Homo sapiens: one gene and its partner. The protein of the gene in region 2 interacts with the protein of the main gene of each other region in a pairwise test. Each region holds a gene or a part of one and is shown on either strand. Other genes may lie near its edges.

Evidence for each region. The genes of interacting proteins can lie anywhere in the genome.
Region 1: the proteins of SLC35A1 (region 2) and SYT2 interact in binary tests that used the Homo sapiens proteins (3 or more experiments, as listed by UniProt).

What each region holds. Positions count from the first base shown.
Region 1 is NC_000001.11:202,591,706-202,595,454, forward strand, and holds part of SYT2 (synaptotagmin-2), read right to left. Parts: 3' UTR 1-3,749. UniProt on the Homo sapiens protein: Exhibits calcium-dependent phospholipid and inositol polyphosphate binding properties. May have a regulatory role in the membrane interactions during trafficking of synaptic vesicles at the active zone of the synapse.
Region 2 is NC_000006.12:87,471,422-87,475,170, reverse strand, and holds the start of SLC35A1 (CMP-sialic acid transporter), read right to left. Parts: upstream 2,198-3,749; 5' UTR 2,168-2,197; coding exon 2,152-2,167; intron 1-2,151. UniProt on the Homo sapiens protein: Transports CMP-sialic acid from the cytosol into the Golgi apparatus, functioning as an antiporter that exchanges CMP-sialic acid for CMP. Binds both CMP-sialic acid and free CMP, but has higher affinity for free CMP.

The DNA of each region.
Region 1 (3,749 bases), on a different chromosome or scaffold from region 2:
GTCCCTCCTCCATCACCACCCACAGACCCTCACACTACAGAGGTGAGTAAGCAGGGATGGTTCTGTCATCCCTGGCTGAGCTGCTGACTGGCTGCTCCTGAAAATCCTGGTTGCCTCCACAGGGACCCCAGGAAAGGTATCCAGAACCATGGAGTCCCACTGCTGTCTGCTCCTCGCCCAGCGTAGAGATGGAGCTGAACTGTGAACCCAGGCCGAGAAAGCCAGCTCGGGCAGGGCCAGCATGGGCATCTCCTGAGACCCCACCGGAAGCCCTGGACACCGTCCATTCTCATGACACGGGACTGAGGGAGCAGGAGGGAGTGACAACAGGTGAGCCCTTCAGAAGTGGTCTGTGGGGAGCCAGTTGGAGAGACATGGGGGCTCCTGGGAGGAGCCAAGGGAGGCCAAATCTCCAGCAGGAGGCCCCCTTTATGGCTTTTCAGTGAATTCAAACAGTGGGAGGAAGGGGCACACCACACACATACACAGAACATGGAAGCTACTGGGATGCCAGATACCAGGCTGGACACTGCACCGGGCCCTGAGGTTTGGCTCTGCAGGCAGATGTGCAGCAAACAGGCCTTCAGGGCGACAGGGTCCTCCAGCATCTCCCAAGGCAGGGCTGGACTGGAGCAGGCACCGACTCCCGCCCACTGATGACTCCCATGGGGGGTTTCCCGATGGGAGGAGGCAGGGGTGGGGCTGGGGAACAAAGACTTTACACGACATAAAATCAAAGGAGCAGCCTCAACCAGTTCTGTAAAATGGGTTTGAGGTTGGGGATCAAGGGGACTCTCAGCATTGCCATGCGGCTATTTACAGAAAGTTATAGACATGCATCTTGATTAAACAAGATTCTGTTCATATGTTTCTAGGTAATTATCTTCTTTTATATATAATTAAATATACACGGATGGGGGCAGATGAGGCTCAAATGGCTTCAGAAGGTTCTTATTTTGTTGTTGCTTAAAAAATAAAGTAATTCATGTGTCTTCAAGTCACAGTGTCCCCTTCTCAATATTGCAGTTCAAAAAACTGGTTAAGTCAAATCCTTGGGGTTCCTGGCCCCTTGGGACCAAAGGGAGAGGGGGAAAAGTCATAGGGTAGGGTTCCCAGACACAATGCAGGATGACCAGTTACATTTGAATTTCAGATAAACAACAAATTATTTTTTAGTATATGTCCCAACTATTTGCCTAGGACATATTTACACTTAATAATTGTTTGTTGTTGAACTGAAATTCAAATGTAACTGGACATCCTGTATTTTTATTTGCCAAATCTGGCAACCATAGCATGGGGCTCAGGGCCACCAGGATCTTGGGACTCCTCCCTGCCTGCCACCACCCAGGGCTCTGAGAAAGGGCCCCAAACAGCTTTAGGTGGGAGGGGCAGAGGAAAGGGAAGGGAAGGGGCAGAGCAGAGGATATGAGGGCAGTTCCTGGCTCAATCTCTTTCTACCTTTGAGTGGGAGGGGACACCCTCAGGGACAGTTTTTCTCTCTGTGAGGCTGGGTGAGACCCAGGACTCAGATGCCTTATGAATTAACCTAGGACATTAAGGGAACATGGAAGCTCTCACTCCCCAAACCCAGGGAGGTTCCTCAACCTCTTTGCTGTCACCCACCCTTACCCCCACCCCACTGCATGGAGGCAGGTTTATAAGAGAGCTGCTTTTACCCACAGGAGGGCTGTAGTGACCTCTCTTCTCCCTCTCGCTGAAGCCTTGGGCCAGCAAAATCATCCCACACTGATTCTGCAGACACAAGTTATGTATGCTTTCCTAGGAAGAAAAAAGATCAGGATCTGAGACTGTGGCCTAATCCCTGCTATCTCATCCTCTACTGAGGGACTCCAGGAAAGTCACTTCTCATTCATGCCAAGCACCTGCCTACTGTCTGAGATTGCCCCAGCATTCCTTACCCAGCCTTCCCCAGGCCTCAGCTTCCACTTCCAAAGCCCAAAAATCTGCCTGTAGCTCTGGCAGAGTTAGCATCCCTTCTGGAACAATTATTCAGGGAGGAAGAAGAAAACGAACTTTCAGACTTTACCCCAGTTTCTGGATGGGATTAGGCTTGTTTTCATGGTCTCAGCTTCTCTAAAAATCACCTCTATACTACTTTCCTTTCTCTGGAACAGACTTTGAGATGAAAACTCACAGCCCCAGAGGCGTCCAGAACCCCTTACTAGCCAGACACCCTAACTCTATCCTGCTTAGTGCCTACACCCCAGTACCCTGACATCCCCAGAAATAAACCTGCCCAGCAGTGAGTGTTTGGCATGATGCCCTGTGGTTTAAGCTACGTCAGCCCTCAGGTATGGAAAACACACAAGCAGAAGCATGTTCCCACCAAGCCCATGGACCAAGACAGATGCCATCCACTACGTGGCATATCAGGACCAGCTGGGACCTGAGGAAGGCACTGCTCCCCACACCCACACTGGCTCCACACTGGTGTCAACGTTCAAAATCACTCAGCAACCTGTCCCCACCCCTCAAGGCTCCTCACTAGCAGTGGGCTCAGAGTAATAAAAATCCAGCCCTGGTCACCAGGCACATAGACACCCAGACCACCAGAGGTTCCTACCATTGCCTTTCCTCCCTGTCAAGGGAATGCAAATCTTGGGCTTTGGAAGGGCTGAATGAAGTTCATGAATGGAAAAGAATCCAGGTGGTAGAAGATGAATTGGGAAAGGGCAAAGGAGTAAAGGTAGAGGGGATATTGACAAGGGGGTCTCCATGAGTGAGTCTGTGGGATATGGGTGAGAAGAGTGAGTCTGGGGAGAGACCCTGAGAAAGCACCAAAATCCCATAACTCTGGGGTTGGGAGAAGAGTCCAGTGACTTCTGATGTCCATACCAGGAAATCCCACTCTGTGGCCACCCAGATTCTGAAAACACCCTATTGTCCTACAACTCTCTACCATGACCACACCTTTGGTCCCAAGGACCGCAGTTCATAATCCTGATCAGAGTCTTACCTTCCCATCATTAAGTACACACACACACACACACACACACACCAGTAAAAACATAACTTCCCATGTACCACTAACAAGACAAAGAAGGATCTCCAAGAGACAGGCAGGCTTTCCAGTCTGTTTCTGGTGGGGGTATTCCCTCATTTCCCTCACTCCTTCATCCAAAAAACAAAGCAAAACCAAAAGCCCCTTCCCCCTTTTTAAAATAAAATAAAAAGACACTCTGCAACTTCTTCACACTGGATCCTCAAAGCCTGATTCCCTCCAACACTGTCCATCTGTCTTGGGTGTCTACAGGAAGCTGAAGTGGCCCAGATGGGGCAGGATAGAGATGCTGCCATTTGTGCTGGGAAAGAGAGATACTCAGGCTTCTGGAGAAGCCATGAGTTTTCTGTGGTGAAAAAATGGCAAGGGCCTGAGGGCTTCATGGATGGAAAAGAGAGGTCAAAGGAAGGCAGGCAAGGAGGGCTGGCCTCTGGCCACAAGGGGACCTCACTCTGTTGTCCAGGCTGAAGGATTGGAAGAAGACTCAGTGCAAACCTGACTAACATATATATGGCTTTTATATCAGTGCTGGGGACAAAAGGTGAACAGGGAATGGGATACAACTGAGCATGGGTAGAAACCCTAGAAGGTCACCTCTGCTACTCATTTGGAATGGATGCCCTTTGTTTCTTAGCATTCATAGAGAGAAGCCCCCTAATGGTAGGACGGGTCCTTCCCATAGGTCTCCCTGGGCCACTCCAGCTACCTATCAGCTCTCCAGCAT
Region 2 (3,749 bases):
CTCATTTGTTTCTAAATTATCCAGGCTACTTTTTTTTCCCTACAACAGCAGATCTGAGTAGTTATGACAAGAGACTATCCAGCCCTTCACAGGAAAAGTTTGCCATCTCATGTCCTAGATTATCAACACTTTCATAAATAAGAGAAGTTAGGGCTGATAAACTAAAAAGTACTTTATTTTAGCTACTGTACAGGTTCCTGATTCCAAAAACAACAAAGTGAATATTTAAACACTAAACCAAATATTGATAGCCTACAAACATATTCTGACTTATAATATTGTCATTAACTTGAAAAAATACCTTTTTGCATAGTGAGTATATGGGAATATATATTATATTCTTGAAAATAACTACTGATCTAAGTGGAAGGGTAATCAAATAAGTTTAGGTATGTGCAAAACAGATTGGGCTTTGACATGGAATACCAGTTTTTAAACGTATTTCAACTTTTAAATACTAAATGTTTTTAAGTACGATTTTCTCTGGCAGTTTAACATCAGACCAAACTATTTCTTGTTCACTCCATTCACAAATTCTCCAGTATAAAACTTCAGTTATTAGCAATTTCAATTATTTCAGGGTAACAGCAAAAGTCCATATGTAATCACTTCAAATTGGGCAAATAATTCAAATCACACCCAATGCCAGTAACTATAAAGCTAGCCCACAACTCAACTGGCAGCCACATCTTAACCCTGCATTGTTCCCTGCTTCTCACGAAATTCTATTAGCTCCCATATAGTGTTTGTGTGGAAATGTCCCCCAAAAGAAACTTACAGTTTAAAATGTTTTTTTTCGGTTATGTTTTACTATAGTTTATGGGGACATTATTTGTAATACTTAAGAACTTAGAAATTCTGTAAGTCCCAGATAAATCCTTTGTGGATATTCGGAAACTATGGAAACTGTAGTTTTGTTAGGATTACAATCAAGGCTCAACAAATATGTATTGGCAATAAGCCTAAACCTTTACATTGTTGCAGCTATTTCAAGTAATGATTTGACTTCTGTAATTTATAAGTTTTCGTTCGGATCAATTTTGCTATCCCCATTCCATTTTAGTTATCAAAACAATTCTATTTCTTTTTCTTTTATTTCCTGTGTTGCTACAAAAAAAGGCTTTTAAGATTGGACTTATTTGAAATGAAACAGAAAGAAGACATAAGAGAAGCATATGCAACTAAAGACAATGCCCCTGGGCAGGGCCTGATGAGAAACATGGACCCCGCAACAGGGAAAATAACTTGAAACCCACGCAAGAAGATATTCCTTATGTATTCGTTCAATATTTATTCAAGGGTGAAGCCAAGTGCTCTATGGAGGAAGGGTGGAGCAAGAATCCGGGTGTTGCCCAACTTCTCCTGGTTAATGCACCACAGTCAAAGAATCCACCTCTGGTCCCAACTTACACACACTGCTCAGCAAAAAGTGGTGCGGAGTCAATTAGACTCGCCCTCCTTAAATGTCAATTAGTCAACAAATACGCCTTCACCCGAATGTGCCATCCCTCAGGAGGAGGGAGGTGGATCTCAGCTTCCACCCCAAATAGCAGCATACAGCATTCTCTATAATTACACACAGCATACAGGTGGGAACTGTTAACGACTGTTATCTTCCTTTCGTTACGATTTCAGTGCTGTTTTGACGCCCCAGTGATGTCTTTAGTGGTTGTTGCATGGCCCAGCCGCCGCATGGGATCTGCGCCCGGAGCCTGCCTTTAAGCCTCTGAGCATCCACAGGGTAGGAGGCGCAGAGGAGACCGGAGCCGCGGGGCCAGGGTGAAGAACTGTCCTGCCTCGCTGGGTAATGCGGTCCAGCCCCGGACCCACGCCCTGGCCTCTCTCCGGGTCCGCCGCAGCCCCGGCCTGTCAGAATTCGGTTCCCACCCACTCCCAGCTAGTGGAGGTCAGTGCGGTCTCTGACTCCGACCTGCCCAGCGCGGAGTCAGCCGCGGAGACTGCAGCCGCAGCGGAAGGCAGGCTGCCCTGACTGCCGGGAGCGGCTCCACGCAAACTCCTGACGCCTCAGCCAGGCCCCAGAGGCACTGGGCAACCAGGGTGCTCCGCTGCCCGACAGGGGCTGACCAGCGCAGATGCTCGCCCGCCGCCGCCCCCCGCGGACTCCCCACTCCCAGCAGACCCAGTTCTCACCTCTCGGGGCAGCCATGGTTCCCCGACAGCCCCCCGCGGAACTGACGCCCGCCCCCTCCGCGCCCCCGCGCAGGACACCGGGGACCGCCCCTTGTGGTCATAGAGACGAAGCCGCTCGGCCTAGAGCGCCTCGCCGGCCTCCCGGTCGGCCACGCACTAAAACTGGGCTCAGGAATCCAAGCTACACCCCAAAATGGGGAGAACGCGGATCGAAGGGAGGCCTTCCCGGCCGCGTCCTAGGTGACAGGTGTGTGAAATTCGGTTGGGGAGGTAGTTCTGTAAACTGCGTCTCCCCGCCAGCTAAGGAAGTTGAGTGAAGGGAGCGTTGCCGTCTGGGAATCGTAGTCCTCACAAAGGCGTGAGTAGGCGGCAAATAAGGATTTGGGTTTAGCCTTGGGGATTCACTCCTGTCAAAGCTGTTAGAGAAGCTCCCAGAACTCGTAAAGTAACAGAAACTACTTGCGGCAACATTTGTAACTTCCACCTGGCTCATTATCTTCCACTGTTACCTTGTGTTCTAGATAAGTTATAATTTATTCTACATATCGTTCAGAAGTCTTGTGCCTGTTCCATATCGTCAGCAGTCATCGGTTGTATTTACCCAGCCAGGCATTCTAACTAATGATCTTCGCACAACAAAACGGCCTTTAAAAAATCAGATGTATCGGCCGGGCGTGGTGGCTCACGCCTGTAATCCCAGCACTTTGGGAAGTCGAGGCAGATGGATCACCTAAGGTCAGGAGTTCGAGACCAGCCTGGCCAATATGGCGAAACCCCGTCTTTACTAAAAATACAAAAAATTAGCCGGGCGTGGTGGCGCGCACCGGTAATCCCAGCTACTCAGGAGGCCGAAGCGGGAGAATCACTTGAACCCGGGAGATTGCAGTGAGCCGAGATTGCGCCCCTGCACTCCAGCCTGGGCGACACAGCGAGACTTCGTCTCAAAAAACAAAAAAAATTAGATATATCAACAGGCATTTTAACCACTATAATCTCCACTTTCACTAGGGGATGTTAATTAGCTATCATAATTGATATTAGAAATAATTCATTGGTGAAATAAATGATGTTCAAGATATGTGGATTGGTTTAAAATAATATGAAAATACCTCAGCACTTACAGGAATAGGGATGCAAGATTCTGAGCTGCCCAGCAGCCCACACCTTCTGCAGCATGTTCTTTCCCCAAAATTGTCCTTTTAGAGGGTTGGTTGTATACCATTGTCTTGTTAAATATACATATAGATATATCTGGTCTGTTAACATTGTTGGAACATTTTGCATGCCTTATTAGCATCATATTAATATTGGGAGGGGCTCCCAGGAGACCAGAGTTGACTTTGTAGAGGCAGACATTTGATTAATCTCATTTTGCAATAGTGTTGGACTTTTCCTCTACCTGGTAGTAAGTGTGCTCACTGGTGCTAATCTTCCCTTATTGTAATTGATACAGTTTCCACTAGTAGAATTATTCAGTTCTCTACTGTGTATGTACTTATGCATACATTTAAACAATATTCATATATGTACGTGAAATTAATTTTAAAAATTAAAAATATTATATCATATAGTCCTTCGTTTTACAGCTACTGCTTTGT